Regions from separate parts of the Homo sapiens genome. Here region 2 is linked to region 1. The links come from fine-mapping of genetic effects on gene expression. Tissue or cell type: lung. Region 1 holds a variant in brackets; the other region holds the start of a gene. All regions are shown on one strand. Distances are from middle to middle.

The links. PIP is the estimated chance that this variant, and not a neighbour inherited with it, causes the effect.
Region 2: AKAP11 starts here. The variant in region 1 is fine-mapped to the expression of AKAP11 in lung (TOPMed, PIP 0.94).

What each region holds. Positions count from the first base shown.
Region 1 is chr13:42,337,241-42,341,591 of GRCh38, reverse strand. No RefSeq gene overlaps it. Among named protein-coding and RNA genes, the nearest start is that of AKAP11, 67 kb to the right of the region's middle. The variant C/T (reference allele first, on the strand shown) is at 1,795.
Region 2 is chr13:42,270,344-42,274,506 of GRCh38, reverse strand. It overlaps AKAP11 (A-kinase anchoring protein 11), which reads right to left and starts at 2,355. Exons shown (of 13, transcript NM_016248.4): 1 at 2,279-2,355. RefSeq lists a silencer at 2,096-2,445 and an enhancer at 2,986-3,165.

The sequences.
Region 1 (4,351 bases):
TCCCTACAGCACAGGCTCACCCAAACCCTGGCCTTCCCCTCAATGACCTCACCCCCACTCCAGAGCCAGCCCTGGGTGTTACTGCCCATGGGTGTTTCTGACTCTTCCTCTCTCAGAAGTCACCAGAAAATCCTAAGAAGTGGTTGATATGGCTTAAGATCCTCTTTGATAGGGGCTGGGCTAACTCAACAATTGTTATCCACACCCAGTGAGGTGCCTGTGGCCCAAAAGCCTTGTGGTTTCCAGGAAAATGTTTCATAGATGATTCTCCTCAATTTTTAGTCTCTTTAAAAAAAAATCACTACTTTTTTAAATTGACAAAAAGTATATGTGTCTATGGTGTACAACCTGATGTTTTAAAATGTATATACATGTGGATGGCTAGATCAAACTAATTAACTTATGCATCACCTCATGTACTTCTCATTATGATTTTTGTGATAACACCTAAAATCTGCTCTTTCGACAATTTTCAAGTGTACAATACATTGTTATTAACTATAGCTACCATGTTATACAATAGATCTCTTGAACTTCTTAGTCTCTTGATTGGATTTAAATAACTGCCTCTCTGTACGTGCCTGGGCTATAGATGTTACCAAATAAACAGAGAGATTTTGAAGATACATACACATTCTTTAGTGTGATTTTTCTTTTGACAGCTTTGTTCCACATCCAACAATAAGCGGGACATTTAAAATTTCTGGTCTTGATGGCCGAAAATGATAAATCTTGGTTTTTTTCAGTATGATAGAGCTGGTCAAAAATGTTAATTCCTGGAGCATCTTGTAGTGGCAGAAAGTGCCGGAAGGGCTCCCAAAAACATCACAAGAAAGGGGATACATCAAAGAGACATGGGATCCCACTGAAAGAGTTCCCAATGGACAAAGCTGGAACAATCTGATTAACAAAGTAGCACTGGAGTATAACTTGATATTCATGAGTCTATACTGACATAAATAAATGAACATATAAATAAACAAGTGGGGGAGAATAGATAAATCTCTAGACAGAAGAATTCCATCATGTATGTAGCTACTCCCCCTCAGGGAGGTGGAGTACAACTCCCACTCCTTAAGTGCGGGCTATCCACAGTGACTCCCCTCCAAAGAGTAAAGTATGAAAAGGTGGAAAAAAGAATCACTTTACAGTAGAAAAACCTGTCAAGACTACCTCAGCCAGGTCATCAAGGTGAACATCAACTGTGAGTTGCGTTGAGGGTGCCACTGATGCAACGTGATGAGAAGGGCACTTTGCCTCTGTGATCTTTCTTCCAGAAACCCATAACCTCAGTTAAAACATGAGAAAAACATCAAACAATTCAACTAAGGAACATTCTACAAAATACTCTCCAGGACCCTTCAAAACTATCAAAGGTCACTGAAAACAAGGAGAGTCTGAGAAACTGTCTCAGCCAAGAGGAGCCTATGGAGACGTAACAATTAAATGTAACGTGGCATCCTGGATGGAATCTTACAGAAAAAGGACATCAGGTCATAGAGTATTGACTTTGGTTAATCATGAGATTGTGACAAATGCACCTAATGTACATTCATACATTCAGATTTGCAAAAAAATTTTAAAACTAGTACAAAGCATTCCCATATACCTCACACCTAGCTTTCCTTATTAATATCTTACATTAAGATACAGATAATGTACATTTATAATGTGGTACTGAAATATAACTTGGTATTCATGAGTCCATACTGACATAAAAAAATGATCAAATAAATAAACGAGTGGGGGAGATGTACATTATCTGCATTCTAATGTAAGATGTTATTTGTACAT[C/T]ACAAAGTACATTACCTGTATCCTTCATTAGGATTTACATTGTACATTACATTATGATACAGATAACGTATATCGTACAAATGTACATTTTATATTACTTACATTGCACATTTGTACAAATGTATATTATATGTATCCTAATGTAAGATATTAATAAGGAAAACTGGGTATGAGGTATATGGGAACTCTTTGTACTATTTTTACAACTTTTTTGCAAATCTGAAACTATTCTAAAATTTAAAGTTTATTTAAAGAAATTTGGATTCCTGAGTGCCCCATCCCCAGAGGCTGTGCTTCAGTATATCTGATCTAAGACTCGTCAGCTGGTAGGGGAGTAAGCTAACCAGGTGATTCTGTTGCAGGTTGCATCTGCAGTTTTCTAAAAATCTACAATCCAGGATCTATTTGTTTAAATACAAAAGCAACTGGCCATTGAAATGTCTACCTCCTCTACGCTTGAGTGCCAGCAGCTCCAGAGACAAAAATGACTGCCTCCTACTTGCCTGACCCAAGGGTACCATTCCCAGTGCTGGACTACTCCAGAAATGTTGTCATATTATGCCATGGCCGGTCACCAAAGGCCACATTTCCACAGGTTTTGACAACCCCCAAGTACAATCGCATTCACAAAAATAAGCTTTTAAAGCAGTGATGATGTAACAAACAGTCCTGTGGCCTCCAGCTCTGTGAACTAGTGAAGTAAAGAAAATGAAAAGAGAATAAAAGGTAGTGCTTCCAGCAGCCCTCAAACTGAACAGATTAGTGCAGGGAAAAAAGCTACTCATTCACCAGGAAGAGCACGGGCGGGAGGAACCATGCACATCTTCAAGGCTCAATCCAACTGTGCTTGGTTGTGCATGGTCTAATGGTACTCTCCAAAACCCTCCGATATTTATATATGGTCAATTAAAGCATAATAATTTTAGCTAAGGAGATGGTCTTCAATATTAAATAGGAGACTTGTGGAATTATTTAAATAGTTTGGTTGGAGAAGGTAAACCTATATGGCCATTATAAATCTTAACCATATCATTAGAATAGGTTGCTGTCAACTAGTATAGAACAGTTGGATTGTGTCTGTCTTATTTTCTCCATGGGTATTCAATCCCTTGATCCCTTCATTTAGGCGACCTGATTTTTGGCAGGTGTGTTATTCATTTCCTATGAATATGACATTTTCATAGTGAAAAGATGATCAGTTACTCCCAGATAATATCATTTGTCTTAATTTGCAGACTTTCCTGAAGCATCAGGAAAAACGTAACAGATGGGTGGTGTGTGTCTGTGTGTGTGTGTGTGTGTATGTGTGTATTTTCACATGGGCCACCCGTACCGGGGGCCAGACAAATGAGTTCAGCCTGTGTACCAGGCAACAGTCTCCACCAACAATGTTTTCATTACTAATTCTTTCTTGCTCCCAGGATCAAATTGTAACACTCTGTTTTTAACCAAAATACAATGAATTCTCAGCCTAACCAACCTCAGAAGGAGACTTACTGTAATTTCCGACAGGCTAGCACTCTGTCAGAGAGCTCATGAGCAGGTTTGCTTTTGGAAAACAGCCTAGGGTTGGAGATTTTTGGTCTGAAGTAGGGAAACGTAGAAAAAAATTCATTGAAGAAATTTAGCCCAAATCCATGTTGCCAACCTCAAATGATTAGTTTCCATATAGAAAACAAAAATAAAGATGAGGACAAGATAAAGTTTATTCCTCAGACTGCTCTACTGCATGAATCATCCAAACCCAGTAACCAGGATATTTCCGTCCGCAATACCTCAAAACAGACTCAAATGGCATTGAAATAAATTGTGTTTCCCCATTTTTAATGGCACAAAGTTCATTTGAGTTAAGCAAATGACATCATATGGGGGGAAAACTGTAACCTTTAGTTACCTGTAACCATAGCAGACACTCTGAAATATGATATTTGAACTTATAATACCTGTTAAACCACAACAGATTCTGCAAATGTCAGTGTCAGGCTGTTAGGGAAGCAACTGATCAGAATCCCAAATCCTGTCCCAGAATCCCAAGCCAGGATAATTTGTTATGGAAGCAAATTATTCTTGATATTTTAAAAATAATTCTAAGTAGAGTCACTAATTAATCCTCACCTCGTAGCGCTCAGTCCTGATAAATGTAAACACTTGCCTCTTAGCAGGCATGATGAAGGGGACTGCAGGGAAGCTAACTTGTTCATGGAGCAAGTCAGAGGAGAACGCACATTTCAAATGGAAAGTTCATCTCCTAATTCTGAGCTCAAGTCATTTTTCTCTGCATTGCTGAGAAATTGGCACCGAGATAAGAAAGAGGCCAAACTGAAATCATTACATGAATGCTTCTTGGTATTTGGGCTCTGATACCCAAGGCTGCCTTTTGGTTTGTAATTCTTTTTGAGATCTTTCTTTCCTGGAAATGGTAAATGCCCGTGTCCATGAGGTGTAAGGTGGGGCAACAAATACTGGTCAAACGGGAAAAGACCCAGTTGTTGCATCCTGTTTTCTGTTAGACCACAGTTTCAAGTTCCTTCAGGGCAATTGTTTCAAGACTAATTTT
Region 2 (4,163 bases), 67 kb after region 1:
TTTCCATGTTGGCCAGGCTGGTCTTGAACTCCTGGTCTCAAGTGATCCACCCGCCTCAGCCTCCTAAAGTCCTGGGATTACAAGTGTAAGGCACCAAGCCTGGCCCAGAAGTATTTTTTTAATAAACTTTTATATGTAAGGATGACTGGGAGAATCGAGACACTTGGATCTTTCCAGGCTGTTTTTAAACTGATAAAGCATTTTTCTTTCTCTTCCCCATATTACCAGCTCATTGACCCTTAACTCATGCCCAGGCTTAACTTAAAGCTTTTCTCGACCTGTCCTCACCCTTCAATCCTTCCAGGTAGTTGATTAATAAAATGCAGACCACAAGACAGGAAAAAAAACAAAATCAGTTACCCTATCCAAAGTTACTTCAATTACTTTTGAAAAACCAAACACCACACGCCCTACAAGTTTGAAACCCTTGCCAAAAGGTTATGAAGACCAGCCAAAAAATTTATTTTTCTACTTCTGAAAATTAGTTTGCTAAGATGGAGTAAGAAGGAATTTTTTCTAATCAACACTGGTCTCCTCTGCCCATTCACAAAGAGATATTTTCTAAGTCTTTCACATTTTTGTCACGTATAGACAGAATTCCTCTACCTATTTACAACTGGCATTTTCTCTTAAAACGGCCTTTAATATATTGTCCAAATTGGTTTGAGTTCCTTTTCCAGACAGTAAGTTCCTAAAATTAAAAAATAAAAAAATTAAAAGTACCGTATTTTTTCCAGCCTCTAAAGGCAAAAGAGGACTTCTTCAGCTTCTAGACTTATCCCTGGAGTTCAGGGGGCTAGAGAAGGCTAGAGAATTTCTCACTATGGTTCCATGTCTTAGGCAACTTCCCATATCCTCAACAACTGCAAAATATCACTGGCCTAGGAGTCCACTGCTAGGCCCTTATCAATATTGTCGATACTGCAGTTATGTGGGTACATACATTAGTCTCTAGCTCAGCTTGGGAACCCACTTCTTCCCTGATTTCCTTACATTCTTTGACCTTTCATAAATTACTGTTACAGCTACAATAGTGACATTCACTGTCCACCCCTGGGTCAGTTTTGTCAGGAGGAACAACGACAAGAAAAAATGAATAATCAGGGTACCGTTTGAAAAAGTAAATGTGTTTTTCAAAAAAAAAAAAAATCATTCAATTGCACTATTTTAACTGACACCAATCATGCCAGGCACTGGGCTGCCATCCTAAAATGATGACATTAAAAAAAATATATCTGTGCATTACTGATACCCCATTTTTTCTTAGTACTCCATATTTTGAGTATTTTCAGACATAACAAAATAACAATCGACATGACATTTCTAAAACAGTGGGAAGCAGCTAAGCAAAACGAGCATTTTGCAAGCGATTGAAAAGCTGAAAAGAGAACAGGAATTAACTCCAGTTTGTACTAAAGCTATTAGGTATGTATCTCAGCAGTCTTTCTCACCATGAAACTCCTTAACATCTAAAGCTAAACCACATCCAACTTTATATGGTTTTAGAAGACAGACAAAGCAGAGAAAAAAAATGAAAGCTGGTAATATGGGGAAGAGAAAAAATGTTAGCTTTTACTGTCATTGTCACTTTTTAATACTTCGGTTACATCTACATATTTTTTATAAAGCAGCTTAGATGCCTGGATTAACAGCAGTATACTCAATCCATTCGGGGTACTTTATGGCCAGCCTTAAGCCATTAACAGCCTAGGAGAGTATTTGACAGCAAATCCAAATATCAATACTCTGAGGAGCCCCTTGACGCCTTCCGTTTACAAGATCTGAGCAGCGCCTGCTTCCAAGGCTCCGGGGGTCTGACAGTGAAGGATGCTGTTCGGGAACAAAGTGCAACGTCCTCCCAACCGCTGCAAATGTTCCTGTGCGCACACCACGAACACACACTAAGCACGCGCACCACGCACCCGGGGGGCCGTCTCTGAAGACCACCCCGGGGATGGAAACAGCCTGTCATTAAAAGGGGCGGCAGCTCCACCGCCACACTTGGGACCCCAGGAAGACGCGTCTCGAGACCCAGCACCTCCCTCTACTCTGGGCCCGGTGCGGTGAGTTTCCTCCTTCGGCCGCGCTCCTCCCGCCCTCCTCCCTCCGCCATGCGAAGGCGCAGCTCTCGGGCGGCCCCGAAGCCAGAAGGGGGACCAGCGGCAGGCGGAGGGGCTGGAGCGCCGGAGCCGGGCCGCTCCATCCATGCCGGCCGCACACCCGCCGCCACCCCATCTAAACGCAGCCTCCGCGGCGAGCACGTCGGCGCCCGGCTCACCTGGGGGCCGCAGCCTCCGCAGCTCACAGACATGTCACCGGCCTCAACGACCCGTGAGCGAGCCGGGCAAGCAAGCTGGCCCCCTCCCGCGCTGACCCCCAGCCCTCCCCCTCCCAGCCCCGCGGCCCGCCCCCGCCCTGCCCACCCCTCGGCTTCCGCCGCCGCCGCCGCCGCCGCAGCTCCGGCCCGCAACACCGCCTACTCTCCACGCCTCCCACTCTCTCTCGCGAGAGGGCAGCGCGCCTCTCGCGAGAAAAATTCCGCGGCCGAGCCCGCGCAAAAGTGGGTGGGCGTTTAAAAAGGGAAAGAAGGAACAGGAAAAAAAGCCTTCCCACGTGCTCCAGTGCAGCCCGCGGAGCAGCCCGCGGGGCAGCCCCGCTGGTCACATGACTTAAAGGGGGCCTCTCCATTGGCCGGGACCCACTCAGCCTTGGGAGCTTTAAATTCGAGGGCGACCTACGAACCTGCGGCGGACGTCTTGCGCGCTTCCTGGTCCGTTGCCTTGGAAACGGCTTAACCCTTCCCTCTGGCAAGTCCCCAGGCCTTGGCTTGCTCCGCAGATTTGGTTTCAGGCTCTGCCTCTTTTCCCTCGACCCCTTAGTCTTAACAGCCTGGGGCCAGCTGGGCTCCTTCTTCGCCACAAGGCTAGTTTTGCTTTCTTCCGAAGCCCGGGGCCCTTCCCAAAGTGGCAGCCCCACCAGATCCGAAGGCCCAAGGAAGGCTCATCCTTTCTGATGGCTCCGCCCCTTCTCCCAGCATCTCCGGGGAGGACCACTCACAGCGCACCGGGCAACCAGCCCTATCCCAGCCAAGAAGTAGCTTCCAGGGTTCTCAGGGCCCTAGTGCTCACCCTGATGTCTTTACGTGGTATGGAAATCGGAAAGTAAAGCTTTGGTCACTGGGAAGCCTAGCCAGAGATGAAAAGCTGTTATGGTGATTATTTTCACCTAAAATCGGAAGGGCCAGTCCAGTCAAATTGCCCTGTCTCCTAAAGGGCATCTGTTCCTCAAGAGTGGAAACACCTGGCAATAAGAAAGACATTTTTGAGTGTATCCTCGTTATGAGTTAAGTTTTGCCCTGTTCAGAGGAGAGGGTCACGGAAGAAAGGGTGCATTCGTTTGTTCATTTCTTCATTCAACAAACACTACTCTAGGCTGTTGATTGAACAATGATGAAGACAAGTAGTGTAGATTCTAGGGAACTTATCTGAGGGTGAAAAGAAAAAAAATCTGTTGGTTTTAAGCTGTATGCAAAGAAGTTACAATAAGTGACGTGATGGTGATGGTGACTGAGTGGCTAGTAAAGGGGATGCCCTTTTAAGGAGGAGATATTTTAGCAGCGATTTGAATAACAGACGCAAAAATCAGAGCATAGAGCATTCCAGGAAAAGGATAACACTAATTCAAAGGCCCTAAGTAAGGATCTATTCTAGTGCATTTGAGGGAAGAAGAAATGAGAAAGTAAACTTTCTTGAGCCTGGAGATGGAAACTGTAAGAGTTAAAGAAAGAAACACAAAAAGCAGCTTAACAGAGACAGGTTTATTTTGGAGAATAAACCTGAGAGGGGCTTCTGGCCGATTTCGGTCAGGAGTGTTCTCTCTTACAGACTAAAGGTATTTAGTGGTTTAGGGAGGGAGAGCATATTGTAGACTTGGAATGTTTCTGGGTGGAGGAGAGTTTTATTGTCAGGGGTGTAATGTCTCTGGTTGGAGGGGAGGCATATTTCTGATCAGAGTGGGGTTTATCTCAGGGTTGGAAAGTTTCTGGTCAGAAGTGTTATTTGTGGTTTATGGTCATGCTGACATTAGCCATTAGGCTGATGTTTCTGGGGCTGGATTTAGGCGGTTTTTAATCAAGGGGAACTTAAAATGGCGGTGCTTGTCCA